Linked DNA regions of Homo sapiens: regions 1 and 2 are each linked to region 3. The links come from fine-mapping of genetic effects on gene expression. A gene starts in region 3. Each other region holds a variant in brackets. All regions are shown on one strand. Distances are between the middles of the regions.

Evidence for each region. PIP is the estimated chance that this variant, and not a neighbour inherited with it, causes the effect.
Region 1: its variant is the best candidate, but not a certain one, in a credible set for the expression of GPR65 in whole blood (INTERVAL, PIP 0.66).
Region 2: its variant is the best candidate, but not a certain one, in a credible set for the expression of GPR65 in whole blood (TOPMed, PIP 0.75).

What each region holds. Positions count from the first base shown.
Region 1 is chr14:88,045,557-88,056,042 of GRCh38, reverse strand. All of the region lies in intron 2 of HISLA (HIF1A stabilizing long noncoding RNA), which reads right to left. Among named protein-coding and RNA genes, the nearest start is that of LINC01147, 24 kb to the right of the region's middle. The variant C/T (reference allele first, on the strand shown) is at 6,129.
Region 2 is chr14:88,031,644-88,042,129 of GRCh38, reverse strand. All of the region lies in intron 2 of HISLA (HIF1A stabilizing long noncoding RNA), which reads right to left. Among named protein-coding and RNA genes, the nearest start is that of LINC01147, 11 kb to the right of the region's middle. RefSeq lists an enhancer at 4,361-4,862. The variant A/C (reference allele first, on the strand shown) is at 5,813.
Region 3 is chr14:87,999,585-88,010,070 of GRCh38, reverse strand. It overlaps GPR65 (G protein-coupled receptor 65), which reads right to left and starts at 4,936. Exons shown (of 2, transcript NM_003608.4): 1 at 4,849-4,936. RefSeq lists enhancers at 3,492-3,551, 4,352-4,521.

The DNA of each region.
Region 1 (10,486 bases), 46 kb before region 3:
CCACGAATTTTGTATCTAGCAAAACTAAGCTTCATAAATGAAGGAAAGATACAGTGTTTTCCAGACAAACAAATGCTGAGAGATTTGCCCCTATCAAGCCAGCACTACAAGAACTGCTAAAAGGAATTGTAAATCTTGAAACAAATCCTAAAAATACACCAAAATAGAACCTTCTTAAAGGATAAATCTCACAGGACCTATATAACAATAACACAATGAAGAAACAACAACAAGGTATTCAGGCAACAAATAACATGATGAATAGAATAGTACTTCACATCTCAATACTAATGTTGAATGTAAATGGCCTAAATGCTCCCCTTAAAAAATACAGAATGGCAGAATGGATAAGAATTTGCCAACAAAGTTTCTTCTGTCTTCAGGAGACTTACCTAACACATAAGGACTCACATAAACTTAAGGTAAGGGGGTAAAAAAGATATTCCATGCAAATGGACACCAAAAGCAAGCAGGAGTAGCTATTCTTGTATCAGACAAAACAAACTTTAAAGCAACAGCAGTTAACAAAGACAAAGGGGAACATTATATAATGATAAAAGGTCTAGTCTAACAGGAAAATATTACAATCCTAAATATATATGCGCCTAACACTGGAGCTCCCAAATTTCCAAAACAATTATTACTAGGCCTAAGAAAGGAGACAGACAGCAACACAATAATAGTGGGGGACTTCAATACTCCACTAACAGCACTAGATTGGTCATCAAGACATAAAGTCAACAAAGATACAATTGATTTAAACTATACCCTAGGACAAATGTACTTAACAGATAATTACATAACATCCTACCCAACAACTGCAGAATATACATTCTATTCATCAGCACATGGAACATTCTCCAAGATAGACCATATGATAGGCCACAAAACATATCTCAGCAAATATAAGCAAATCAAAATTATATCAAGTGCTCTCTCTGATCACAGTGAAATAATATTGGAAATCAACTTTAAAAGGTACCCTCAAAACCATGCAAATACATGGAAATTAAATAACCTGCTCCTGAATGATCATTGGGTAAACAATAAGATTAAGATGGAAATTAAAGATTATTTGAACTGAACAAGAATAGTTATACAACCTATCAAACCTCGGGGATACAGAAAAAGCAGTGCCAAGAGGAAAGTTCACAGCATTAAATGCCTACATCAAAAAGTCTGAAAGATCACAAACAGACAATCTATGGTCACACCTCATGGAAGTGGAGAAGTAAGAACAATCCAAATCCAAACCCAGCAGAAGAAAAGAAATAACAAAGATCAGAGGAGAACTAAATGAAATTGAAACAAACAAACAAACAAAACACAAAAGATAAATGAAACAAAAAGCTGGTTGTTTGAAAAGATAAATAAAATTGGTAGACCATTAACAAGATTAACCAAAAAAAGAACAGAGGAGTTAAATAAATTAGAAATGAAAAGGGAGATATTACTACTGATACCAGAGCAATACAAAAGATTATTGAAGGCTACTATGAACACCTTTACACACATAAACTAGAAAACTTAGAGGAAATAGATAAATTACTGGAAATATACAACCCTCCTAGATTGAAACAAGAAGATACAGAAACTCTGAACAGACAAATAAGGAGCAGCAAGGTTGAGATGGTAATTAAAAAATTTGCCAACCAAAAAAAAGTTCAGGACCAGACAAAAATCACTGCTGAATTCTATCAGTCATTCAAAGAAGAATTGCTATCAATCCTATAGACACTATTCCACAGGATATAGAAAGAGGGAATCCTCCCTAAATCATTTTACGAAGTCAGCATCACCCTAATACCAAAACCAGGGAAGAACATAACGAAAGAAGAAAACTACAATCCACTATCCCTGATGAACACAGATGCAAAAATCTTCAATAAATTACTAGCTGACTGAATCCAACAGCATATCAAAAAGATAATCCACCATGATGAAGTGTGTTTCACACCAGGGATGCAAGGATGGCTTAACATATGCAAGCCAATAAATGTGGTACACTACATAAACATAATTAAAAACAAAAATCCCATGATCATCTCAATGGATGCAGAAAAACATTTAACAAAGTGCAGCATCCCTTTATGATTAAAACCCTCAGTGAAATTGGCATAGAAGGGAAATACTTTGAGGTAATAAAATCCATCTATGACAAACCCACAGCCAACATCATACTGCATGGAGAAAAGTTGAAAACATTCCCCCTGAGAACTGGAACATGACAAGGATGCCCACTTACACCACTTCTATTAAACATGGTACTTGAAATCCTAGCCGGAGCAATCAGACAAGAGAAAGAAAGAAAGGACATCCATACTGGTAAAGAGGAATTCAAACTGTCACGGTTTGCTGATTATATAATTGCATGTCAAGAAAACCCTAACGACTCATCCAAGAAGCTCCTAGAACTGGTAAAGGAATTCAACAAAGTTTCAGGATACAAAATTAATGCACACAAATCAGTAGCTCTGCTATACACCAATGCGACCAAGCTGAGAATCAAATCAAGAGCTCAACCCCTTTTACAATAGCTGCAAAAAGTGTAAAATCTTAGGAATATACCTAACCAAGGAAGTGAAAGACCTCTACAAGGAAAACTACAAAACACTGCTGAAAGAAATCGTAGACAACACAAACAAAAGGAAACACATCCCATGACCATGAATGGGTAGAATCAATATTGTGAAAATGACCACACTGCCAAAAGCAATCTACAAATTCAATTCAATGCCCATCAAAATATCACCATCGCACTTTGGGAGGCTGAGGCAGGCGGATCAAGATCATCCTGGCTAACACGGTGAAACCCCGTTTCCACTAAAAATACAAAAAAATTAGCCAGGTGTGGTGGCAGGCACCTGTAGTCCCAGCTACTCAGGAGGCTGAGGCAGGAGAATGGCATGAGCCTGGGAGGCAGAGCTTGCAGTGAGCCGAGATCGCGCCACTGCACTCCAGTCTGGCAACAGAGCAAGACTAAGTCTCAAAAAAAAAAAAAAAAAAAAAAAAAAAAAAAAACCCACCATCATTCTTCACAGAACTAGAAAAAACAATCCTAAAATTCATATGGAACCAAAAGACAGCCCTCATAGCCAAGCAAGACTAAGCAAAAAGAACAAATCTGGAGGCATTACATTACCCAACTTCAAACTATACTACAAGGCCATAGTCACCAAAACAGTATGGTACTGGCATAAAAATAGTCACATAGACCAATGGAACAGAATAAGAACTGAGAAATAAAGTCAAATACTTACAGCTGACTGATGTTTGATAAAGGAAACAAAAACATAAAATGGGAAAAGGACACCCTATTCAACAAATGGTGCTGGGATGACTGGCAAGCAACATGTAGAAGAATGAAACTGTATCCTTGTCTCTCACCTTATTCAAAAATCCAAAAATCAACTCAAGATGGATCAAAGACTTAAATCTAAGACCTGAAACCGTAAAAACGCTAGAAGATAACATTGGAAAAATCCTTTTAGACATTGGCTTAGGCAGAGACTTCATAACCAAGAACTCAAAAGCAAATGCAACAAAAACAAAAATAAATGGGACTTAATTAAACTAAAAAGCTTCTGCACAGCAATATAAATAATCAGCAGACTTAACAGAAAACCCACAGAGGGAGAAAATCTTGACAATCTATACATCCAACAAAGGACTAATATGCAGAATCTACAAAGAATTCAAACAAATCAGCAAGAAAAAAACAAACAATCCCATCAAAAAGTGGGCTAAGGACATGAATAGACAGTTCTCAAAATAAGATATATAAATGGGCAACAAGCATATGGAAAAATGCTCAACATCACTAATTATCAGGGAAATGCAAATTAAACTCACAATGTGATACCACCTTACCCCTGAAAGAATGGCCATAATCAAAAAATTAAAAAATAATAGATGGTGGCGTGAATATGGTAAAAAGGGAACACTTCTACACTGTTGGTGGGAATGTAAACTGACACAACCACTATGGAAAACAGTGTGGAGATTCCTTAAAGATCTAAAAGTAGATCTACCATTTGATCCAGCAATTCCACTACTAGGTATCTACCCAGAGGAAAAGAAGTCATTATATGAAAAAGATACTCACACATGCATGTTTCACGCATGTTTCTAGCAACAGAATTGGCAATTGCAAAAATATGAAACCAGCCCAAATGTCCATCAATCAATGAGCAGATACAGAAAATGTGATATATATACACACACACATATATATATGTATGTGTGTGTATATATACACACATACCATGGAATACTTCTCAGCCATAAAAAGCAATTAAATAATGGCATTTGCAGCAACCTGGATGGAATTGCAGACTATTATTTTAGGTGAAGTAACTCAGGAATGGAAAACCAAACATTGTATGTTCTCACTCATAAGTGGGAGCTAAACTATGAGGGACAAAAGACTACACTTTGGGTACAGTGTACACTGCTTGAGTGATGGGTGCACCAAAATCTCAGAAATCACTGCTAAAGAACGTATTTATGTAATCAGGCACCACCTGCTCCTTAAAAAACTATTGAATAAAAAATAAAATTTAAAAAGATAGATAATAACAAATGTTGATGAGGATGTGAAAATAAGAACCCTTAATATGTTGCTGGCAGAAATGTGAAACAATTTGGTGGCTCCTCAAACAGGTAAAGATAGAATTACCTTATGACCCAGTAATTCCGCTCCTAGGTATATACTGATGAGAATTGAAAACACATATTACACAAAACCTTGTACACAAAAAGTTTATTACAGCATTATTCCTAATAGCCAAAAGGTGGAAACAACTGAAATGTTCATCACCTATGAGTGGACAAACAAAATCTGGCATATCCATACAATAGAATGTTATTCAGCTATAAAAATAAATGAAATAGTGATACCTGCTGCAACACATAGGTGAACTTTGAAAACACTGTGCTAAGTAAAAGAAGCCTGCCACAAAATACTACATATATGATTCCATTTATATAAAATATCCAGAATAGGCAAATCTATATAGATGGAATGCAGACTGCCTAGGGCTTGCCTAGGGCTGAAGGCATGTGGAGAATGGGAGGTGACTGCTAAAGGGTATGGGGTTTCTTTTTGGAGTGGTGAAAATTTCAACAATTGATTGTGGTAATGGATGTGCAGCTCTGAGAATATGCTAACAACCATTGAATTGTACTCTTTAAATGGGTGAATTTATGGTATGTGAATTATATCTCAATATAATGATCTATGATCATTGTCATAGATCAGGCTGAATTGAAGATCTTTATGATGAAGACACATTCATTATATGTCCCTTGCCTCTACTTCTTCAAATTTTCATTTTGGTTTTCAACAATCAACCTGGAAACTATTAGTATTTGCATGTAACAGATGGACTAAGGAAATTATAGTATTTAATAGAGTTTACTTCTTGGTTCCTACTAAATTCAGAATCACCTTTGATCACCAAGTTGGCTCAGGGTCACTGGGTGGTGCAGGATGTTTATAATTTTTTACCGTGAGTGTGAATTCTGACTCTGTTTTTGGAGAAGTATACATTTTTGAGCCTGTGTTTTTGACTCATTGTGATGGCTGCCACAGCCTGACAATGAGGCTACTTATCTGTAAATCACAGTGCCAAAAAGTGAGCTCTTTGCATGTCCCCAAGAAAAGCCAATTCTTGGAGCAGTTTATTAAGATGTCACTTTTAGAAGGGCCTTGAATCTTTATTTTCAGAACTCAGTAATACAGTGTCTTTTGTCATTGTACTTTTGTCTACCCTGATTCCAGCCATTGTGGAACTTAGATGTTTGGGTCTACGTAGAAAGAACAATGAGGGAATAATCCTTTCAGTCAATAACATTGGTTAATCATATTTTGAGTCTTGATTCCTCCACATACTAGTTGAGTGATGTTGTGCAAGATTTTAACCTCTCTAATCCGTAGTTCCCTTTTGTGTAAAATGAAAATAATGATAGTATATTCCTCTTAGGGTTATTATAGGAATTAAATGAAATAATGTAAAGGTCTTAACTCAGTTCTCAGCAAATGACAAGCCTCTGAAAAATAGTAGCCATTGTGATGATTGAAAATAATACAGGGCAGGGAGAATCTATCAAATGTACTTTTTATAGCT[C/T]GAAGAGCTGGTAAAATGACTCCATTTTCCTTCTGTAATTGTAGTTAGTAAGAATGTTTTTGTATTACGTGTAATCTTAACTTGGAAGATTTCAGTGGATTATTTCATAAGGTTGAATTTTAATTTTCTAAGAATAATTCCACATTAGCATAAATTATTGATTAAGTAAAACTTTTCTAAGGGTAGAAAATGATAAGAATTTATTTAATAGACACATCCCTGTCTTTTATGTACTTGTTTAAAAATAGTTATTTGTGTCTTGGATATCCATTTCTTCTGTAGACATCCCAACTTACAGTAGACGTTCTCCCTCCCATATCCACTATGGTTGAAACAAAGTCCCTGCCTCTGTTTAAATCACAGAGGAATATTTTGGCATAAGCAGAATCCTATGCTTTATTCTTGCTATTTTGGATTGTGACTCATGCCTTCTTGTTCCTTAAAATTATTGTCACAGGGTCAGATTTCCTGTGAACTTTGCTTGTCTATGTTGAGTTGTAGTTTTCTTTTTAGCTCCTGTGAAGGACAATGTTTCATTACCCTGAAAAGTTTAAATCACACAAATATACAGTCACATCTAGAGAAATACAAGAAGTGATTATAAGACTGTGGTCTTCTAAAAAGAGCAAGCTCTCTGGAATCAGTTAGGTCTGGGTTCCGATCCAGATTCCTCCTTGTCCAGGTTGTGTGGCCAAGGGCAAACCATTTCTCCTCTCTGAGCCTATTCCTACACATGTAAAATAGAGAGATACTACAGTACTACACACACGTGAAACACTCAGAAGATTCTTCCAGTTTATAGAAAAATCTCAACACATGTTGTCTATTATTATGAGGATTACAATTATACTCCTGATTATTGTAATCTGGTAAGGCCATTGAGACAACATTGTACTGCAATAATTCATACAAAGCAATTAGCCCAGTACCTAGCAGAGTAGACAAAAGACAGCTACTAATATAATCAATAATTTACTTATTGGAGGGAAGATGTGGAAAGAGTAAGCCGGTGTGTTAATGTTGCCTCTCTTAGAACTTTGAATAAGCCCAGCCTCAGCTCTCTTTGCGAGAGGATAATGATAATGATGTCACCAACAATGATAACTGTCATTTACCAAGCACTTACTCAAAGCCAGACGTGGTGCTTGGTACATTCTCCATTTGTTCCTCCTAACAAATCTGTGAGATGAATATTAGCATTAACCCCACACCTCAGCATGGATCTCCCCAAAACACATTCTGAGACATACATTCAGGTGCAAGTAGCTTATTTTGGAGGGAATGTCAGGAGAGTACAGCGAGGTACTAGGAAGTGACACAGAGGAGGGAGGAAGCCAAGAAGGAATAAGATAATGACTAAGTACTGCCCTGGGCAACCAAGGCCAAGAGCACAAATTTCCCCAGATGTTATGGTAAGGCAAGGGCATTCCTGCTTCTCTTTGTTGGTATGCAAACCTGTGTGTTCTAGCTACTGAGGACATGGTGCCATTTAATGGTCACTGATTTAGGGAGAATACCACATCTTGGAGGATGGCACCCACTTGGCAGGGTATTATCTCCAATCCAGTGCTTCAGCTGTACATTTAAAGAGCTGTCCCATTGCTCTAAGTGGTGTGGTGTATGATAGGATTAGTGGATTCTGGCTCACGTGCTTACTGCTATATATCATTTGTTGTAAGTAGGTTGGTTGGTGTGAAGTGAAAGCATTTCCCAAACAAAAGCCATCTCATTTTTGAGTCCAGTTAGGGACTCAAATCACCTTATGTGTCCTTATTACCTAATGTCAGACTCCAAAGAAGAATGTCTTCATCAGACTTAAGCAGCACGCAGGGTAGTAGGAAACAATTGCACAGGTGCCTTTGTTGGGAAACAAATATGAATGCAAATGAGAGTACTAAATATTGTGGAAGAGGTGGACAGAGGGTGCCTGGCCAAGCTGGGGGAAGCTGCTTGATGCGGTTGGTAGAGGCTCCCAGAAGACGGGGATGGGGAGGAGTATTAATTGTAAAAGAATGAGTCCTGGCTCTCAAGAATCCAATTAAAATCATTCAAGATTGTTATTGAGTCTAAAGCCAAAAAGTGAAAATTCACACTCCATCCTAGAATTTTGTTGTGGAAAAGGATCATCTGGTCCAACAATACCACTTTACTTAATAAATGAGAAAGATGAGTTTGGTAGGATGGGAGCCACAGTCAAAGTAGAATGTATTTCAGCTGCTTGGGAAAAAGCTGGGGTAGGAGGACTTTGTGTACACGTGGTATCATCAGCTTGAGAGGATTTCTGAGTTGGAGGATGAAGTTGACAGAACAGAGAACTGGGATTGAACAAAGCCCAGCATGGAAGGAGTCTGGATCTAGGCAGAAGAAAGAATGCTGGACACCAAGCATGGCAAAATGCAAATCATTGTCAAAGCTGGTTGCTGTGCACAGGGGCTCATCACACCATTCTCTCTGCTTTGTGCATGTGTGCAACTTTTAATAATAAATAGAAAAGTATGCAGGGCAGGTTAACTGTGGAAGTTTCATATGCTGGTGAGGTTGAGAGCCTTGTGAACATGGATTACTCAGTGAGTCTGAATATGTTGAACTTCTGTTCAAAAACACTACTTGGTGACAATTCAAAAATTAACATAGGGCCAGAAGCAGAGGGAGCTTCAAGTTTAGATGGCCCAGATGGTATATGATTGAAGTGACTCAGGGAAGAACCCCAGAAAATATGTGCCTGGCCCTAGAGCCACCAATCATGGCTGATACAATAAAGAATTCAGCATCCATCTCAACTCCTCTGTAGTTGCCTCCCTGGAAAGCTAGGAACCATGTTTTCCAAGCTTCTTTACCACTTGGTTCAACATGGGACCCAGGTTTGGTCAAGCACTTCCACCTGCACAAATATAGGAGGCAGAAGTGAGCAACAGGACCTGCTGTTGGGTGAGGGGAAGTAGCCTCTTGTGACAATGGCAAATGTGGAGGAATTAGGCTCTTCTGGGATAGCTGCGGGAAAGCTCTTGGTGTCCAGTTCCTAGTATTATGGGAGCCAAAGAACAAGAAGAATAATTCTGCTCAGTGGCGTGGTGTTCAGCCGGATTGCTCTTGGCTACGGTGGTCCTGGATGTGAGCTTTCCTAACTGGGTGTTGTTTTTTTCTGCCCTTCCCAAAGATTGAGTTGCCTCTTAATATCCTCAAACTCCTTTCTGACTAATCAGCAAAGGGATTCTTTTTTTTTTTTTTTTTGCCACTAACAGCCCAGATACAGATGCTGTCCTTGATTCCTATTTCCCCTGCACCCCCAAATCCAATTTATTACTAAGACAGATCTTTTCAATCTGTTCACTTCTCTCCTTCTCCTCTGCTGCTTCCCTGGTTCAGAACCCTACCATGTCCTGTCCACATTCCAGCCACCACATCCCTTCGGCAGCTCTCTGGTGGCTCTCACTGACCCCAGTGTCACCTCCAACCCAATTCATTCTCTACACTGACACTAGAGCCATCTTCATATAGTGTCAATATGCTCATGACACTACCCAGCACAAACTCCCCTCTCATGCATATATATCTAGGCCTTAGCCATGTGGAATTACTTTCTATTACCAGAGTGTGCAGCTATTCCTTTTATCACTAGGGCTCTGTGTATGTTGCTTTTTCCACCTAGGACACTCTTCCTCCCCTTACCAGGCTAGCTTCTATTCATATTTCAGGTCTTAGGTTAAGTGTAATCTCCAGGAGGCATTTCTTGATTTCTCAAGTTCCAATTAGGTGATTCTATAGTATCCCCAAATGTATTGTACTTGCTGTTTATTTATCTGTATCTCCTACTAGCCAAAAAGCCTTATGAGGGCCAGAATCTTGTCTGATTACTTGATAATTATGCCTCCCAAATTGGCACACAGGCTGAAGCATTGTGGGTACTCAGCAAAAAGTAGTTAAATGAAGAATAGTGTCAAATGCAACAGGAAGGTCTAAAGTTAGAGATTGCCCATCATCCATGAGTTTGGCAATCTAGTGGACTCTGATGACCTTACAGGGGCAGTTTCAGTGGAGAAGTGGCAGCAAAAGCTAGCGCCAAGTGGGCAATGAGGAAGTAGAAATGGGAAGTGCATTGGGAATCACACCCCTCCTAACTCTGTTGCTGGCCAAAATATTTCAGTCAGGTCAGCGGGCAGGAGAGGCAGTGGAAACACAAATGTATTAGATACCTGAGACATTCGTTTGTAAAAAGTGGTGTCCCAAAGAAGGGCAAAGTGACAGTTGACACACACAGGAAAAATAAGAGGAGGCAAAGATGCTAAGGCACCAACTTTAAGGCACACTTTTCCATAAGCCACAGAAGGTACAGTGCCTGGGGTCCACAAAAATGTTTA
Region 2 (10,486 bases), 32 kb before region 3:
TCCAGTAATGGCTTTGGTGAGAGCAGAATGGGAGAAAGAAGAGGAGCTACCAGAGGGCTTTGAGGACAAGAGTAGCATGAGCCAGTCTGAGTCTTAAAGGGTCTACTCTTGCTAATGCTGTGGGGAGAATCATTTATAAAGTAGCAGGAAGAGAACCAGTTAGAAAGCGTATTGATTTGGATGAAGTTCAGTGGTGAGAGGAAAACCCAAATGACAGTGGCTTTAGGTAGAAGTTAGTTTCTCTCTTATTTATAGATTCAGACATCAAAATCCAAAAGTAGATGACAGATCTGTTTCACCAAGTCCTCAGGGACCCCAAGACCTTCCAACTCACTGCCATGAGTACAGTGGAAAAGAATAAACATAAGGATGTATCCCTGTGGTCTAAGTGGTCATCTCTGTACTGAAAAACAGGATGGAAGAACAGATTTAAAAAAAGGAAGAAAGGATACCTTGGAGCTATCTCTTAAAGGCTCTATAGATATTTCAGATTACATCCTCTTGGTCACACTAAGCTACAGGAAATGTTAGGAAATATAATCTACATTCTGGAAGACCAAGTACCCAGATGAAAATTGTATTTGCACAGGATATAGGGAGGGAACAAGTAGTTTTGTCCACAGGCTACTATTGCAGTAATCTAGGTGGGAGGTGATGGTAAGGGGGTCATGAGAAATGGTCAGATTCTGGATATGGTTTGAGGTGGAGGCAACAGGATATGATGATGCACTGGCTGTAGGATGTAAGGAAAAGAGTACAGCTAGAGATCATGAAGGTTCGGGCTTAAATAAATGAGAAATGGAGCTACTTTTATGGAGCAACCTTGAGGGTAAAGATAATCAGGAGTTTGATTTTGAAGAATGTTAATTTCAAGATACTAATGAGACACCCAAGTAGAGATGTCAAGAAGGCAGTTGGATATGCAAGCCCAGAGTTCAACTGAGACGTCTGGCTTAGAGCTAGAAATTTGGGATCCATCTGCATAGATTTGGTATGAAAACCTATAAAATTTGACAAAATCTTCTGGAGAATGAGTGCAGATGGGAAAGAATCAACATAAGGAACTGAGCTTGGGGCACTCCAACATTTAAGGGTTGGGGAGATGAGGAGGAGAGACCAGTAAGGAAAGCAAAGAACCAAGAAAGAATAGTCCATGGAGAAAAAAGTATTTCAAGAAGTGAAGGATACACTGTATCAAATACTACTGACAGGATGACTAAACTGAAGATTAGTAATTGGCCACCGGATTTGGTAAGATGAGGATCACTGGTGATCTTGATGTAAGTTGGTTTAAAAAAATTTTTTTTTGAGACAGAATCTCGCTCTGTTGCCCAGGCTGGAGTGCAGTGGCACGAACACAGCTCATTGAAGCTTTGACCTCTTGGGCTTAGGCGATCCTTCTGCCTCAGCCTTCCCGGTAGCTGGGGTCATAGGTGGAACACAGTGAAATGGTGAGTATGAAAACCTGCCTGGAGTAGGCTCAAAAGAGAAAGAAATTAGAGAAAGGAAGACAGTGAATATAGGCAGTTATTTTCAGGAATATATGTATAAAAGCTAGCAACAAAATAGGACGGTAGTTGCAAGATAATGCAAAGTCAATTTTTGGGGGGTTTTTTGTTGTTGTTTTGAAAGATGGGATATATATTAAGATGTTCTGTGAGTTAAGGAAAGATCCAGCATAGAGGGAAATTTTGATGATGCAGGAGAGGAGAGAATTGTTGGAGTAGGATTCTTAAGTAGATAAGAGGAAATGTGCCCAGTGCACATATGGAGGTTTTGGCTTTAGAAAGGAGCACAGACAATTCACCCAGGAGGGATGGCAAATTACATAGGAACAGATGCAGGTAGGCAGTGGAGGAAGTGTTGGGAACCAACGGAAATTTCTCCCTGATTGCTTCTTTTTTCTTATTTAAGTAGAATTCTAGCTCATCAGCTGAGAAAGAAGAGGAGTGAGGAGGAACTGGACAGTTGTGGAGAGAAGAGAAAGTATGAAATAGCTGTGCATGAGATTAAATGAATGAATGAATGAATTATGGAAATGTAGTGAGATTATTGGGCAGCACTATGGATTTATTTTGCATCAGCAGTCATGAGTTTAAAGTGAAACTAGCCACAGGAAACTTGTGAGTGTGGGCATAGGTAGAGTTGGATGAAACCAGAGCTGGGGTTTTGCCAGGAGAGTGCAACAGGGGAGTCGGGGAAGAGAGATAAAGATAGGAGAAGAGAGGATGGGAGAGAAGAGATTGAGTGTATTTATTTAAAATAGTCATAAGAAGGGACCATGTAATCTAATCTGACCAAGAGTGATGATCAGATTAGACAGTGTAAAGCTCTTAGATTCAATAGATCAACTGTGGACTTCCTTGGAAAAGTTGGCATATTCTGCATAAATAGACATTGTTACTTTTACAGTGATGTGTTAGAGTATTCTGAACTGCAGTTGAAATAAAACCCAAATTCCAGTGGCTTAAAAACAAAAAGTTTTTATAATAGGATTTGGATTGATGTCAGCTCTCCTCCACAGTCACTTAGTGGTCCCTATAGAGCCATTTGGGGATAGCTCTGCCATCCTCAATATGTGGCATCTAGAAGTTATACAAAGCTTTGCCACACCAATCAACCAGTAGAAAGAAAGAACATATTGGGATAAGTGTGAGGTTTGTATGGGCCAAACGTAGAGGTGACATGTGTCACTGCAATCATGTTTCACTGAAGAAAACTTGGCCACTTCACTGCGAGGGAGGCTGAGTAATGCAGTTTAGCTCTGTGCCAGTAAGAAGGGGAGAATGGATTTTTAGTAGGTAGCTAGCAACCTCTATCACAGTTAGCCCCTTTTGCTGCTATCATCCTTTACATAAAACATACGTGCATATTACTCTGGGGAGAAAACCCAAAATTTTGTCCACTTATTGAATTGTCTACTTGTTGATATCAAAGTCGAGGATCTCCAAATGATGCTCTGGCCTCTTCTGAAAGTCCAGATACAGTTCCTTGAAGTTCAGCATCCTTTGAACTAAAAGACCAGTTATCTTTGCTCCATCTGCCTATTCAATACACAAAAGTGGACTGGCTAACCACACTAAAAATGCCTAAAGAATTCCCTGGTCCAGAGCAATAATGGAATCCTGTAGGGTAGGTATTGCAAAGATCCCCAAACCCTAGAAGAAAATGTTTTGATAGACCCTGGGTCTGTCCTCTGCAAGGAACTTTCTTCCTCATTTTCCTCTGTCTCTTGGCTCTGACCTCCTGGAGAATATTTTTGTCCGTTAGCCTCCATGGACCCTTATACGGTGAATATTGAGGAGTATGTTACTAGGAGTTGCACATCTCCCAGAGCCCACTTTCTGCTGTTACATGAGGGTAATTTTACAGATTCAAGCTTGTGGTTTCCTGGGCATTACGGTTTTCTCAAAAACTCGATAGGTATCTGACCTATTTGTTTCCAGTCAGTTTCATGTGCTCGTAAATAACCCCCAAATTCTTTTCTAGACCTGATCTAAGGTTTGTCTTCCTGGAGCATACCATCTATTCCGCCATCATGGAATCCACATTGAAGTCTAAAATAGCCTGGGTGGCAAAGCAACTTTATTGATATTATCTTTGCCACTTGGCTGGATCTCTCTCTCTCTCTCTCTCTCTCTTTTTTTTTGATCTGCAAATCTTATCTTTTCGTATTTGAGGTATAGAACCCAAGAGTTTTTTCAGCCCCAAGAAGCTTTGTATTTTTTTTTCCAGTTCCACTTTGGCTGGCAAACTAACCAATTCTTGCTTGAGTTTATCTGTTTCTTGTAGCACTTGATTAAAAACAACAAATAGCAGTTGACATACACTAATATTCCTACTCTTTTCACCTGCTTTCCCTAAAGCCACAGACTCAATACGTTCTTGGTCTACCTTCCAAATAATCACAGATGATAATTTTTAAAGTTATCCATGGATAACATGAGGCTTTCACTTTCTAGCCACTCATAACCATTTTATTCCTGCCTTCAGTCTGAATGCTAAGCTAATACCTTCCATTTTAGATGTTTGTTATAGTGCTTACTTTTCGGTACTAGTTCTCATATGAAATAAGGAAGATGGCAAACACAGGGACCCAAAACATCCAGTAGCTTACAAAAAATGTTTTCCTTTCTCAAGGGGGAGGTTTAATCAGCAGCAACAGCGATACTGTTTTTCAGGGATTCAGATGTTCTAGTGAGTCTGCCATTTTCTACTCCTGGCTGCCAACATTGCCTCATGGTCATCATCCCAGTCAGCCAGGAAAGATGAGGAGGAGGAGGAGCATGAGTGGGTGGTTTCAGGACCATCTAAACCTCATTTTACAGATAAGAAAACTAAGAATTTGGCTAAGGTCACATAGCAAGAGTTTAGTGTGGTATCTTTGGGACTAAAATTCAGGTCACCTGCCTCCCACCTCATTACAGCATCCATCACACACACTTATATCCAGTCAAGCTACCCTGACCCAGTAGCACACTCCATGTCTAACCTCCTGCTGTGAAATGCCAACTGCTTTTCAGTCTGCATTAAACCATGGAGCCACATCGTGAATGTGCCATTGGAGAAATACAACAGGATGAATTCTTAACTTTCAGGCTCCCTATTGTCCTCATATATATTACTCCAACTCTCCACAGGGAATCTGAGTTCCAAGGGGTGAGTGAAACAAATTCTGCATAGCCATTACCTCATGTTAACAATGGCTTGGTGATAAACATCCATGGATTGCAGGATGCCTCTAGCAGGGACAGCAGCTTGTTTTTCACAGGGCTTGTTCTAGAAATGGACATGGAAAGGGAAAACAACTTACGCTTGTTTGTTTTTGATCGAAAAAGTGGGCAAATTTAAAATGCATCGGTATGTATTCTTATACATTTGTGTGTCCTGGTTATTTCTTGCAAAACATTCTATGTGGCTCCAGTCATTCACACATAGACCGGCAGTAGTGTTTCCCAAAGGGACCCTTAAGGAATTCTGTTTCTTTGAGATATTTCATGAGAGCATGCAGAGAGAGCTGCAGTCTGTCTCTTGCCTCTAGAAACATCACCTTTCTCATTAGCAGATAAAAGGCCTTGGAAGTCCTTTCATTTAGCCCATTTCCCAAACTTCTTTGATCATGGAACCCATGTTGATTTTTTTCATGTACCGTCCTTAGAACTCAGGTTCCATGGGACACTCTTGGGAAGTCCTGGCTTATGAGTATCCTCCAGGAGTTTAACACCCTGGAGGGGGACTTTTGGTCACAATGACTCTCTGTAGAACCTCATAAATGCAGTTCTAGCTGTGAGCCTGTCACCAAGGTGACCACCGACATCACCAAATTCTCTTTTGTCACAATGTGACAGTATCTTTCCACTTTCCCCCTACTCCTGAATGTCTAAAGAACTCTCAATGCATATTAGCCATCACCATGGTTGAGACCCAGACCTCTGCAGAGACAATCTTGATCCTCTGGCTCCTGCTTCACATTGCCCATTCACCCTCAGCACTGAAATCCTTACCTCAAGCGCTGGGAATTCAGGCCATGGAAGATTAGGAGGCTCACAGCAGGTTGCTTTGCCCTTTTTTTCCCTATTCCTTTTTGCATTTTCTTCTGGGTCTCTCAAAGGCCATCTAATTCTTCTCTGTCATATGCATAGATTTTGGGAACTACTTTGTTTCCTAAGCATGCCCCTGAGAGGACTCACCCCTTACCCCCAGCAGCTTATCAAAGTATTTTTGTATTTCTGTCAAACTAGTGGAATGCTGCTCCAAGAAGAATTCTGATTACATTTTTCCATGTCGTTGTTATGGAAGCTGTATCTATATA[A/C]AGTGGGAAGATGCCAATAAGGGTCCTTGCTCCTTGAGTGTAAGCTCCCCTATCTTTAATCTCTCTGTTGGTCTAGAAGTGTGGTAAGCAACCCTGGTTGCACACGACAACCTTTTGAGCAGCCTTCAAAATACAGATATCTGGGCCCCAATTTCCGAGATTCTGATTTAAACGGTGGAGTCCATGCATCTACTTTTTAAGCACCAAGGCAATCCCATTGTGTGCATATCAGAGTACAATATAACTGATTGAGAACATGGAGTCATTGGAAGTAGAAAATGCCATTCACTATCAAATCATCATAAAGATGAAATAACTATTCCACTGATAATACACCTGATCACCCAAGTACCCACTCAGCTATTCTGTTCACCCACAGCTCTTCAGATACAGCTTTTCTTCCAGATGCTCAGAAAAGTGTGATAACATAGTAATTTATTCCTGCTCCTGCCCATTGATCTCCAAGCTTGTGAAAATGGGAAAATAAGGAATGTCTAGGCACTTTACTGATACATGTCCTTGGTATAATGTTACACTTAAAATTTACAGTTGGGGATGGATTTTCAGCCAGCTTCCATGTGCCCAGTCGAGGGCACTAGTGACTGGCTTGCTACTTGTATGCAGTTGGTACAATTTGCTCATCTCAGAGGTGTGGGGAGGCAGAGTCTATCAGAGATTGTTCATGAAGGTAGCTGCAGTAGTACCAAAGTGAGGTGCTGAACAGGAGTGATGGGGTAAAGGCAGCTCAGTAAGACAGGGGCAAGCAGTCCCACATCTTGTCCCTAACTCACTGTTCTGAACTGCCATCCTATCTTCCCACTTTTGCCTCAGGAGCAAGTTATCCTTCAAGATTCAGGACAAATGTCACTTCCTCAGTGAAGCCTTCTCTCCCTCCTTGGTGTCTCCATAATACTCTGCTTAGACTTCACATATATCATGTGTTTTCCTACTAGATTCTGAACTCCCCGAGAGCGGCAACCCATATCTTAACTCTCTTTGCATCAACAGAGCCCAATACAATGCCTGGCACAGAGTAAGCCTCAAATATGTCTATGATATAAATTTTCTAATAAAATGTCTATGGTATCTATTGTCTATCTCAGAGTGAATTTAAGAAATTCAACATCTCTTACAAATCTAGATCATTCACTTAACAGAATGGCATTACCATATTATCAGTATGCACAGACAATCAACCTCAAGCTCTGCTTCGGGGATATATAACAACTCTAACTCTTATCTCACTTGAGAATGGGGGAAAATGATGACTAAATTGAAGGCCACTAAAAAATGGTAGGGAAGAGAACAAGGTACAACATCGTTTTGTTTAATCAGAACCAAGATGAAACCTCATCTGCATAAAGATACTTCAGTGCCTTCTCATCCCCTGAAAATGTTAAGCATTTTCTTAAAAAGAGATTGCTGCGGTTTCTAACATGTGCCCAGGGTTCTGGGAATCAACTAACCCTGTTGCTTCCCTGCTCACCTGTGCTGGAAATCTCAAAGGAGCTCAGGGAATCTGGGCCTTTGCTCACTTGTTTTCAGGAGGCATGGGGCATTCCTATCTGGAGGCTGCTGAGAGTAACTCCTCTTGAAAATTTGCAGCTAGCTAAATCCACTATGCTTTCTTACCAGATGTGATCCTGACACCCAGAGATGCTAAGCCCAAATGCCCTCAGAAGTCAGGCAGGGAAGGAGAATATGTGGAGTAACATCGTCGTGATTGGTAGGAACTGTGGCAAATAGGAAAAACGCATGCTCTGCCTAAAGATATTTAAGTTCAGAAGTTTTTCTGGAAGTTGAGCCTGCCAAACAAAATACATCTCTAGGCCAATTTATTCAGAAGGCCTAAGTTTTCAATTTGCATATGGCCATTTTCCTTTCCTGCATTCCTACCCCATACCTCCATGTAATTTTTTGCCCTTGACCCGAGAGTAACTGGGAGTGAGGTGCAGGCAGAAGATGTGGCACTGGGATATGTTGTAATTGAATGTTATGAGGGCAATGATAATTACACAAAATTTTGAGTGGGATGTTTCTTAACTGCAATGAAAGACTTGGCACAAGAAAACGAGAAGCTCATGACAGCCAACTGCCAAGTAAAGACACCCTTAAAAAGTCAAAGTGTTCTATGGCAACTTTGAAGGAGACTCTTATTTCCTGCAGACTGCTGAAAAGCAGGCCCAGCATCTAGTTTTCAGTGTAGCAGAGCTGCACAGGTGACTCAAGGCATAGCCCCAACAGATCTCATCTGTCAAAGTTATTGCCCTGATGGGAAAAGAGTGGGACCCCTAACTTGTATTAGGAATATTTGGGTATATTATCCTGAGAGTTCTGAACTCCGAGATGACCCTGAACTCCCCAGGATGGCAGAAGCAACTGATTCCAACTTGCCTGAGGGGAACAGTCTCCCCTTTTCTGGAGGCAATGAAATGACACCACTTAAGGCAGGTGCTTTGCAATATGGCACTAGTTCTCTTCCAGATCCAATTCTCATTAGTTTCAGGCCAATGACCAGAGTCAGGTCTCAGCACAGTCTGATCAGGGAAGTACAACCTCTGCCCCAGGAGGAATAGTCTATACTGAAAAGGATTTTCAGGACCTGGAACACATGTGGAAGTAGATCTAGAGAGCATTGGCCTGGAGTGGGAAGACAGATATAAGGCTGCGTAGGGAGCATTTTCAGCAAGGGAGAGCTCATTCATCACTTGGATTTCAATGCTTTGGAAATATCTCAAGATGATTCTGAAAATCTGTTTGGATGGATTCTTTAAGCTTATACAGGATGATGGCCTTCAGTAAATGAGGTAGAGATGCTAGGACTTTCTTGATGTATAGTATTGAAGAAAGGATCAGAAGGATCCTAAAGATGGGGCTGTTAGAATTAATTTATTATGTAACACATGCACACGTATGTTTATTGCGGCATTATTCACGATAGCAAAGACTTGGAACCAACCCAAATGTCCAACAATGATAGACTGGATTAAGAAAATGTGGCACATATACACCATGGAATACTATGCAGCCATAAAAAATGATGAGTTCATGTCCTTTGTAGGGACATGGATGAAATTGGAAATCATCATTCTCAGTAAACTATTGCAAGAACAAAAAACCAAACACCGCATATTCTTACTCATAGGTGGGAATTGAACAATGAGATCACATGGACACAGGAAGGGGAATATCACACTCTGGGGACTGTTGTGGGGTGGGGGAGGGGGGAGGGATAGCATTGGGAGATATACCTAATGCTAGATGACGAGTTAGTGGGTGCAGCGCACCAGCATGTCACATCTATACATATGTAACTAACCTGCACAATGTGCACATGTACCCTAAAACTTAAAAGTATAATAATAATTAAAAAAAAGAATTAATTTATTATGTAACATCTAAAAACATATCACCCGGCTGTGTTCATTGAGGGAACACAGAATATCTTCCATTAACCAAAGAAATAAGGAATGCGGTGGTCAGAGGGTACAGACAATTGTTTAGAAGTTTAATGGAAATTGTCTTTGTAAAAGGACTGAGGGTTGGAGATGCTGCCATTAAATTGGGCTGTATATTATCAGCAGGGATGACAGGATTCCAGAGTGGCAGAGCTTGGGATTCTGATAGTTGAACTATAAGAAACATGGTGGACATAATGTCTATAATGAGCACTAAGGTCAGGCTGTCAATCAAAATGCCCTAATGGGGATCTTTGGTGTTGGCTAATAGACCATGGTGTTCTTAGGTGTGAGATAGCTAGACTGCTGACAAGGATTGCTGACTTGCACTATTTTATTTTAAAAAATGGAGAACTACAGAATAGAAGTGTTAACATCAGTCACCGCAATGAAATCTGTAGTCTTTCTTCCAGTTTCAAAATTTAAGTTATTTTGTAGACCTAGAACCCACTAATTGAAAAGGAGACTGAGTTCCCTTAAGGAATAACATTGCAATGCTATTGAAAAAATATATATAAATATGAAATATTCCTTGTAATCCTTCCCAAAAGGGACCTGTGGCCATTGATAGACTATTGTACACTGGGGAAGGCAGTACGTATATTTGTTTTTGAGCACTGTTAAATATGGGATCCGAGTTTTCCGATGCTAGTGGACTCAAGTCTTCATCATGGAATTCCAGTTAGAGTGGGTATATGGAAGCTAGGTGATAAATGAAATGTTAGCTCAAGTTTATCTCAGTTATTTTTCTTTTTTTTTATTATTATACTTTAAGTTTTAGGGTACATGTGCACAACGTGCAGGTTTGTTACATATGTATACATGTGCCATGTTGGTGTGCTGCACCCATTAACTCATCATTTATCATTAGGTATATCTCCTAATGCTATCCCTCCCCCCTCCCCCCACCCCACAACTGTCCCCGGTGTGTGATGTTCCACTTCCTGTGCCCATGTGTTCTCATTGTTCAATCGCAAGGACAAAAATTCTCAGTTATTTTTCTAGTCTCCAAATACACAGTTATTTTAAGCATCTGGCAGAACCCTCCCATTGTTTCTCCGACTTGTAGATTAAGGGCCATCATGGTAGCAAGGGCTCTGTGGAAACCCCTGAAATTTCTGCAATTCCTTCTCCTCCTACATATACACAAATGCGTGCACACACACACACACCCCTATGTACACATCCATGCCCTATATGGTAAATAAGAAGCAAT
Region 3 (10,486 bases):
TCTGTTATTTGTCTGTGATTGGTAAATACTTTTGCATGTGTGATCAACTGTATGGTTATGTGATTTCAAATTTCTAATTTCATATTCAATCTAGGTGTACGGCACTTTCAAAAATCACCTTATTATCCAAAGAAATACTATAATAGAAATACAATAAAGTTTTAGAATTTTAAAATGTAGCAGTTTGTTAAGCCTTAGCATATAATTAGACAATCCTACTTCTGTTTATCTTTTTATTTCCTTTGTCGACTAACTCACTTTATTTTTCTTATACTTTTATAAATGAGAGGACAGAATGTTCTTATTCTGGGTAAAATCTTGGAATCATTAATTTCCACCTTTATATCTGATGGTTTAAGAGGTTAGTGTCTTTTTAAAGCTATGATGTCATAGATTCACATAAGAGTAAAGGTTCCATCCTTCTCTCCATACTGGAGTAGAGAAATACTTTGTCTATATCCCTTTGCTGCTGAGGCCTACTGGTGGCTGAGATCATTTACATGGTGAATACCTTCACAGAAAGCTTTCTAGAAACACTATTCAGGGCACCAGAATCACTCCCTCCCAACTGTTGATGAATCCTGAGCACAAAAAGACCTGCCATCACAAGTCACAAGAATTCTACTAGCAGAGTAAATCATATGGGAAAATATATCATATTTCACTCTTAAACAGGTAACTAAAACTCCTGAAAACTTTTAGCTTTATCAACCTAAAAAACAGGAATAAAATGTGAAAAACAGCCTTTTAAATAAATAGGGAAGCTTCCAAAGGGGGGGAAAATTTGTGATGGAAGAAAGGAGGTGGGAGCTGTTATCAGGGAGGTGAGTGAGCGCCGGAGCTCTGGATGGCCTGAAGACATATGTAGATCTGGAGGAACTCACTAGGGATCAGAGAAACTAGAGACAAAACTTGGGCCTATGCAGGTAAGAAGGGGTCCTTGACCATCCCAAACACATGGGATCCAGAACCTCTGCTGTCAGGGAAAGGGTGAACTAGAAAATAAACAAAATAAAATAAATTCCACAGACATTTGCAGACAGTAGAGAAAAGATGGCAATTTCCCTGCCTCTGCTTGGTTTCTGTGAGGAGTTACAATAAAAAATTCTACCCTAAGTAGTTGTGGCCTGTGGGGTCCTCACTTGGAAACTAGGTCTGGGTCTACATTATTAGTTTGATCCTGCAAACTTCAGGCCAACCTACATGCTCAACTTCATTAGTCATCAGAGGAATTCAAGCTAAAATTAAAATGATATACCACTACACACCCAACACAACAAATGAAATGAAAATAAGACAAAATATCAAGTGTTAGGAAGGAAATAGAACATCTTGACTCATATGCTGTTGAGTAAAAAAACACTAGGCACTTATGCATGCCATATGATCCAGCAATTCCACCTCTAGGTATTTGTTCAACATAAACGCATACATATGTTAACCAAAAGACAGGTACTAGAATTAGAATATTCACAGTAACACTACTTGTAATATCCCTTAACTAGAATGCCCACTAGCAGTATAATAGATGAGTAAATTGGGATATAGTAACACCACTGAAATCTACACCTCAATGAAGATGAATAAATTATTGCTACATGCAATCGCATGGTTGAAGATCACAAATGTAATTCTGAGTGATAAAAAAAAAGACACAAAAGAGTATGTATTATCTGATACAAACCAGGCAAAGTTAATCTATGATGTTAGGAGTCTGGGTAGTGGCTACCTCTGGGGAAAGGCTGAGTACTGTTGGAAGAGGGCATGAGGAGGACTTCTGAGATTTGGCAATGTTCTATCTCTTGGTAGGGGTGGCTGGTTCCATGAGCATGCTCAGTTTGTAGAAATGCATCAAGCTGTACACTTAGGATATGTGCATTTTGCTGCATGTGTATTGTATTGCAATGGAAACATTAAAAAGTGGAATCAAAAGGCTGTGTGAGATGGCATGTAGAGCATCTTGACAAACAAACATCTGTTTTACCCACAGATGGAACATATATGCCTTTTTAAGAAATCTGATCTTATTTCTATCCTCATACATAAAATGTAATTGAGAGAAAACAATAAATAAATAATTTACCTAATTATGAAAATAACTTCACCAAAAATAAAGGTTAACTATATATGAAAAAATAAATTCTAGGCTCCTGGAAGAAGTTGACACAGATCCCCCCTTGAACAAGTCCTCTTTAACTCAGGCCTCAAAGAATCCTACAGATAGAGTTCTAACAAATATGACCTTATTCACACACACACACACACACACACACACACATACACACAGAGAGAATAATAAGCAACTACGTGTCAGATTGAGCAGAAACAACAAAGTAAACCAGATCCACAAAACTTTAGAGATAAAATTTATATATATATATATAAAAAACACAAAATATGTTTAATATGTTTAAAGAAACAAAAGAAGGGATTTAAACACATGAGTAAGGAGGAAGAGATTAAAAAATGACAAGCCATATTTTTAGAAAGATTGAAAAAGACTTTCTAAAAATAAAAATAATAATAATTTAAATTTAAAAATAAACACAGGGAGTAACCAACTGATTAGATCCAGCTGAAGAGAAAATTTGTATATTGCAAGATAGAGATAAAGAAATAACACAAAATTATCAGCATGTTAAGGACATGGGAAAATATAAGAGATATGGAGAAAAGGTGAAAAGGGTGGCATATACATAATTGGAATTCCATAAAGATCGAAAAGAGAGAATGTTGAAAAGGCAATATTCACAAAGATGATGAGCTTTCTAGAACTGATGAAGGAATCTTGAGGATGGATGAAGAATCCTCATGCATCTTCAATCCTCATGAAATCTGCAGATTTATGAAGCTTAGAAAATCCCAAATAGGATTAAAAACACAAAAATGGAAACCTATACTTAGACACATTGCAATAAAATTGCAGTTCACCAAAGACTAAGGAAAAAAGAGCCAGAGAGGAAAGATGGACTACCTATGAAGGATGGAATTTAGACGGACAAAAGACTTCTCAACAGCGATAACAGACAGCAGAAGATTAAAAGTTCCAAATTGCTAAGAAAATATATGTCATCCTATAATTATATACTCAACAGAACTAAATTTCAAGGACCAGAGCAAGAATTAGGACATTTTCAGGTAAACTACCACTCAGAACATTTACATCCAAAATCCCCACTAAAGAAACTTCTAAAGGATATAACTGAAGTAGGAAAAGGACACTAGGGTAATGTCTGCGATGCAGGAAGATTGAATCAGCCCCCGCGGATGGGACTCTGATGCACACACAACACGTCCAACACCAGGCTCATGTGTCTTGGGAAGAACACCTGAACCATGAAAACATCCTCCCCTTAAGACCAGGACCGAGAAAGTCGGGTAATGGGCAGCATGTGCCTCTTCCTCCTTTGTCCGTGTTACTCAATAGATAGTCATCATTTTCTTTAAAAATGGTATGACAGATTAAATGAAAAAATGATTTTTAGAAAGGTTTATAAAGTTTTCAATGGAATACATTTCTCTAGCTGTAAAAGCATTTCCTGCCTTGACTTAACCACAAGACAGGATGGGTTGATGAAGCAGAGGCCCTCTTCTTTGTAGTGACGCAGAGGCAGTACAGGCTTGTGGTTAAGAGCGTGGGCTCTGGAGACAATTCGAATGCCTCTCAACAGCACTCTGGGCCCATTGGTGTTTCTTCACCTCTCTAAGTTCCAGTTTTCACATGTGTAAGTTAGTACCCAGTTTCTAAGATTGTTGTGAGGGTTAAATGAAACGACATATGAAGCAAAGTTCCTAGCACATGGGAGGCATTCACTGTACGTTAGCTGGTAATATTGTTTTAATGACATTGGTAGTCTGCACCAATCTTTGTGCTGTCCCCTACATTTTCTGAAAAGAAATCATCTTTAGTCATCTAGCCACAGCATAGCAGAAAAGCTGGAGGTGCTCAGAGTGTAATTTATATGGTAACACTTCACGTATAATACTAGGCTCTGCAGATAATAGTTGTTCATTTAATTTGGGTGGATCTGAGATTTTAGTGGAATACTGTATATAATTCCTATTACAGTATTCACATATCTTTTCAGATATTATTTTGCCTCCTTTAATCAAATTTTGAGAAAATTGTTTTTAGAACAAGCACTGAGAAATTTTGGTGAGTTTTTAATTTTTTAATTTTTACCAGATGTCAAAAAAGACAATCTACAGTATATTAAAGTATATCTATTCTTGAACAGATCTAAAAATAGTACAAATCATTGATGACGATGACCAAAAGTACAATATTTTCCTACAGTGTTATAGAAAATGCTTGCTTTCATCTATCAGTTTAATAGTTACTTATTAAGACTCTACTATATATTTCAGGCACTGTGGTAGTCACTTATTAACTAATAATTATTACTTGACATTTATTAATACTGGAAATATTCTTTCCTAATATCACATTTTTTTCTGATGGATATAAAAAGTATTTACTGGACCATTGTACAGATGAGGGATTGGTGCCAGATAGCTCTAAAGCCAGGGGCTGGTAGGCTTCTTCCTAATACTGAATGAAGTTTGCCAAAGCACTGTTTCCTGAAAAGAAAATAAAGTATGAACAACCCCCTTTTTCTATATCTATGGTTTTGCCTAATTAGTTCTAAATTTAAAGTTTGGCCCTTTACCACTGCTCAAAGTAGAGGAAACCATGTGTCTTCCTCATTTCTTTCTCTCTTATCATGCTTTGCATTACCACATTTATACAGCCTAAACCAGGAAGAATGTTGCGAACATCACTGACAATTATGCCAAAGCATGTTATCTACTTTAAAATATTATTTTATTTTTTAATCTTATACTTACCCATATTTCTTCCGGTGATGTGTTTGTTGACTGAGGAGCTTGATAAATCTGTGCCTGCATCAAGTCAAGAAGAGAAACCAACACTGCTGAGGGGACAGGAAATTGCACTCATATTTCAGCACAAACCAATGAGGAAGCAGCATCTCAATGAGAAGGGTGTGCGTTATCCAAGTTTGAACAAAAAAAGTCTCTTAAATACTTTTAAAGATGTTTTTATTTATTGTTTACTGTACTGTAATTTTTATAACTCACTTGTCTCATTGCATCTTAATTACAAGTATGTACTGATATTATATTATATGCCCTTTACTTAATGGAATATATGTTAAATATTTTATTTATTTCTTTGTTCATTCATTCATTCATTCATTCATTCACTCATCATGCCAGCAGTGTGCGGGGAGATGTATACGAACTGGCTATCAACCAAAAGCAGCTTTTTTTACCTAGTAAAGGAGAAAGACATGTTTAATAATGATTGTAATGCAATGGCAAAATGAAGAAGTACTTCAAGAGGGGTACAGATAAAATAGAATGAACCATTTGGATGTGTGAGATAGGGGAGGATATTGTAGGTAGATTCAGGGTGATAAAGTTCCTGGGACAAAAACAGAAAAGGGAGAATTGAGGCTGAGGGGTTTAATGATGGATATTGTGCTGCTTAAGGCAGGGGTTAAGGTAGCCAACCTCATACCGTCTTTCTTTTCTTTTTTTTTTTGAGAGACTAATGGGATTAGATATATAGTATTTGATTGTAGAACTATTTTCTCCTTTGATTCTCTCCTCTTGGAAACAGAGATGGCTAAAAACCAGTTGAATTAACTAGCTGAGACAAATAATTTTATGAAACTTGAAAATTTTATTTAAGACTTACATTGTTATTATAAAAACTCTTGTACTTTAGCAAGTTAAAGTTAATGCCAAATCTATAAGTGGTTTAATATGAAGTGAAATTAGCTCCTATAACTTTCTTACTATTGATATATAAAAAAGTCAGAAATATCACTTTTGAATCTTGCCCTCATAAACTTTTATTAGAAATGAAGGGAAAATATTATTTGAAAGAACAGAATTTATTTGGGATGAAAACATTTGACTTAATTTTAAAGATGTAATCAGGACATTTTGAATCTGTGTTTGTTAAAGGACATTAAGGGTTGTTGCTGGTGTTTTTTTTTTGTTGTTTTTTTCTCCCTACCCAGAGATAGAAAAGATTAGCCTGTATATAAGCAAGGCTTTCCATATTGAAGTTGATCAGGGTATATCAGGAATGTAAAGATTTTCAATACTTCCGTTGTAGGTCTTTCTTTGAGAATAATAAAACTAATACCTTACATTTATAAAGCACAGGATAGTTTATAAAGTAATTTAGCATATAGTAAATTATAAATCAATATATTGTTACTGAAATAATAAAAATTAAGTATAAAGTAAAAAATTAACAATAAATGTCTTGAAGTTTTACAAAAATGAAAAGTAACGATTTCAGTTTACTTGTGACTGTAATTCAAAGTTCTCATTTTTGCTTGGTTTCGTACATCTGCTTATCTGTGGTTTCTATACATGATATATCTTTTTTTAAGTTCGGGGTACAAGTGCATTGTTACGTAGGTATTTCATTACTCTGATGATCTCTTACTTTATCTGAATAGACTATACTTCTGCTTTTAGGGAAAGGGTATTTTCATGTCCATATCTAATATTCATGTATTTTGCTTTTCAAAAGAAAAAGATTATCATTAAGAAACATAAGAAACACAAACTTTCACTTCTGATTAAAGAGGAGAAAAAGCTGGAGCTGACCTATGCTAAAACCTTGCCAACTCTACACAATAAGAAATTTACCAGCTTTTAAGAAATTTGCTTCTTAATATGGAAAATATGGCAATACTGTATTTTCAACTATAGGGCTATCTTTTATAATGAACGGTTAGAAATTTTAAATCATTGAGTCACTGTGACATTTTAACAACATAACAATGAGATAAAGACAATTAGTAGTTATTCAGAACACTGCCTTAACGGGGTTGGCATTTCTGACCAGTCAATTATTTGGTTTTCTGTGGTCACAATCTGGGGACCCAACACTGGCCAGTTGGGCTACTCATGGGGTAATGGGGAGGAGATTGTGGATCTACCTGGTTCCAACTTCTCCATTGGGCAGACAGTGCAAGAGTGTGTTCTACTGATGAAGGGGTCCTTTGTGAGGCCACACTATCTGCTAGGTGTAATTTCACTAGCTAAAGCGGCAACTAAATATGGCAGGGTAAGATTTTGAAATAATGCTATATTTTCCCAGCCACATTTCTTTTCACTCTAGCCCTACCCTTACACAATCAGTGAGCCATTTTGCATTTATTGCCTCAAGGAAATTTCTGGCACAAGCGGGGGGGAAAAAAAGAAGACAATGTGAGTTTTGACTTTCAAAAATTCAAGGCCTTGGAAAAGACTGAGGCACAGACACTATGCTTGGGAGAATATGTGCTGAAATAAAGTAAAGCTTCCCAGCCCCCAAAACTGAAAAAGATTGTCCTGCTTGGCGGGGGTTGGGTTTAACGTTGTGAGAGAGGAAGTATGTTCAAGAGTTAGATGTGGTCAGTGCTTGAGAAAGGGGCCCTGCATCCTGATTGCTGTACTCACTTCCAAGCAAGCCCTGAGGTAGGGGTGGGTGACAAACACCCTAGATGAGTTGTGTGATCTGGGGAGGAGAGTGAACCTGTGCCTCATTTCCAAGGAGAGACTCAGGAGTATGTACCTGAGAGACCTCACTGTCATAGTTGGGTATGGTTTGTTTGTCTTTATAAAGCTGGTGTTGATTTGATTCCCAGTGTGGCAGTAGTGGGAAGTGGGGCCCAGTGGGAGACGTTTGGGCAATGGGGGTAGATCCCTCCTTAATGGCTTGGTGCTGTTCTGAGGTAGTAAGCGAGTTCTCTTTCTGGATTAGTTCTCCCAGGAATGGATTAGTTCTCGAGAGAGTGGGCTATTATAAGAGCCTGGATACCTCTCCGGCCCTCTTTGCATGTGTCCACTTTCCTTTGGACTTTCTTTGCCATGCTGTGATGCAGCATGAAATCCCTTGCCAGAAGCTGGGACCACATCCTTGAATTTCTTGGCCTACAGAATCATGAGCTAAATAAACCTCTTTTCTTTATAAATTATCCAGTCTCACGTATTATTTTATAGCAACACAAAACAAACTAAGACACTCATCAAGTCCCTCTGTGCCCGTATAGCACAGGTGGAGTAGAATGAGGGGCACAAAGAAGTGATGGGAAGCCTCAGCCCATCTCACAGCACTTTCAGTGGCCCAGTGTGGCACTTTGTGTCACGGATGAGGGACAACTCAGGTTAATACTACCTGGGCTAACTACCAAAGACCAGAAGGGAAAGGGGGTGTCTCAGGGGATGCCAGCATTGATAGAGGGCAGTTCTGAGAACCAAGGGTCAAGCCACCTTCCAGTCCTGGCAACATGAAAAGTCCCTAAATCTTAGCTGGTGTTATGAACTGAACTGTGTCCTTTCCCAAAATTCATATGCTGAAGCCCTAATCCTCAATACTTCAGAATGTGGCTGCATTTGGATATAGAGCCTTTAAAGAGGTGATTAAATTAAAATAAAGCCCCAAGGATAGGCCCTAATCCAATCTGACTGCTGTCCTTATAGGAAGAGGAAATTTGATAGCCTAGAAGAAACGGAGAAGTTCCTAGGCACATACAACTTACCAAGACTGAAACATGAAAAAAAAAACAGAAAGTCTAAACAGAGTAATAAAAAGTAAGGAAATCTGATTAGTAATAAAAATTCTACCACCGAAGAAAAGCCCAGGAAGTCGTCACTGCTGAATTCTACCAAACATTTAAAGAAGCCATACCAATCCTTCTCAAACTCTTCCAAAATATTTGGAGAAGTGGGAATACTTCTCAATTTATTTTATGAGGCCAGCATTACCTAGATAGCAAAGCCAGACAAGAACACTACAAGATAAAAAGTTACACGCGAATGTCCTGATGAACATAAGATACAGAAATCCTCAACAAAATACTAGCAAACTGAATACAATAGCACATTAACAGGATCTTTCACCATACATCACTTTAACAGAATGAAGGACAGAAACCATTTGATCATCTCAATACATGCATAAAAAGCATTTGACAAAATTTAACATCCTTTCACAAGAACTCTCAACAAATTAGGTGTAGAAGGAATGTACCTCAACATAATAAAGGCCATACACGACAAACCCACAGCTCACATCATATTAAATGGTGAAAAATTGAAAGCTTTCCCTCTAAGATCAGAACAAGACAGAATGTCCACTCTTGCCACTTCTATTTAACATAGTACTGGAAGTCCTAGCCAGAGCAATTAGGCAAGAGAAAGAAATAAAAGATATCCAAATTAAAAAAGAAGTTAAATTGTTTGCAAATGACATAATTTTATATATAAGAAATCATAAAGGCTCTACCAAAAAATCATTAGAACTAATAAACAAATTCAGTAAAGTCACAGGATACAAAATCAACACACATATGAACAGCATTTCTATACACTAACAATGAACTATCCTAAAAGTAAATCAAGGAAACAATGCCATTTATAAGAGCTACAAAAATATGTAGAAATAAATTTAACCAAGGAGATGAAGGACCTGTATGCTGAAAACTATAAAACACTGATGAAAGAAATTGAAGAAGGCACAAATAAATGGAAATATGTCCCATGCTCATGGATTAGAAGAATTACTATTGTCAAAATGTCTAAAATGACAATGTCCATATTGTCAAAATGTCCTACAGATGCAATGCAATTCCTATCAAAATTCCAATGCTATTTTTCACAGAAACAGATAATGCAACCATAAAATTCATATGGAATAAAAAATAACTCTGAATTGCCAAAGCAATCTTGGGCAAAAAGAACAAAGCTGGAGGCATCACACTACTTGACTCCAAAATCTACTACAAAGTTACAGTAATCAAAAGAGTACTGGCATTAAAACAGAAACATAGATCAATGGAGCAGAATAAAAAGTTCAGAAATAAATATACACATTTACAGTTAATTGATTATTTTTGATAAAGGTGCCAAGAACACATGGGGAAAGGCAGTCTCTTCCATAAATGCTGTTGGGACAACTGGATATTCACATCCAGGGGAATGAAATAAGACCTTTATCTCACACCATATGCAAAAATTTACTCAAAATGGGTTAAGACTTAAATGTAAGACCTGAAACTGTAAAACTGGTAGAAGAAATCACAGAAGAAAACTCCATGACATTGGTCTGGGCAATGACGTTTTGGATATGGCCCCCAAAGCACAGGCAACAAAAGTGAAAACAGACAAATGGAATTACATTAAACTAAAAAGCTTCTGCATATCCAAAGAAACAGTCAATGGAGTGAAGAGAAAACCTACACAATGAGAGAAAATATTTGCAAGCCACACATCTCAGGGGTTAATATCTAAAATAAATAAGGAACTCAGCTCAATAGCAAGAAAATAAGTAACCTGATTAAAAATGGGCAAAGGAGCTGAATAGACATTTCTCAGAAGAATACATACAAAAGCCCAACAGGTATATTAAAAAATGCTCAAAATCACTAATCATAAGGGAAATGCAAATTGAAAACAT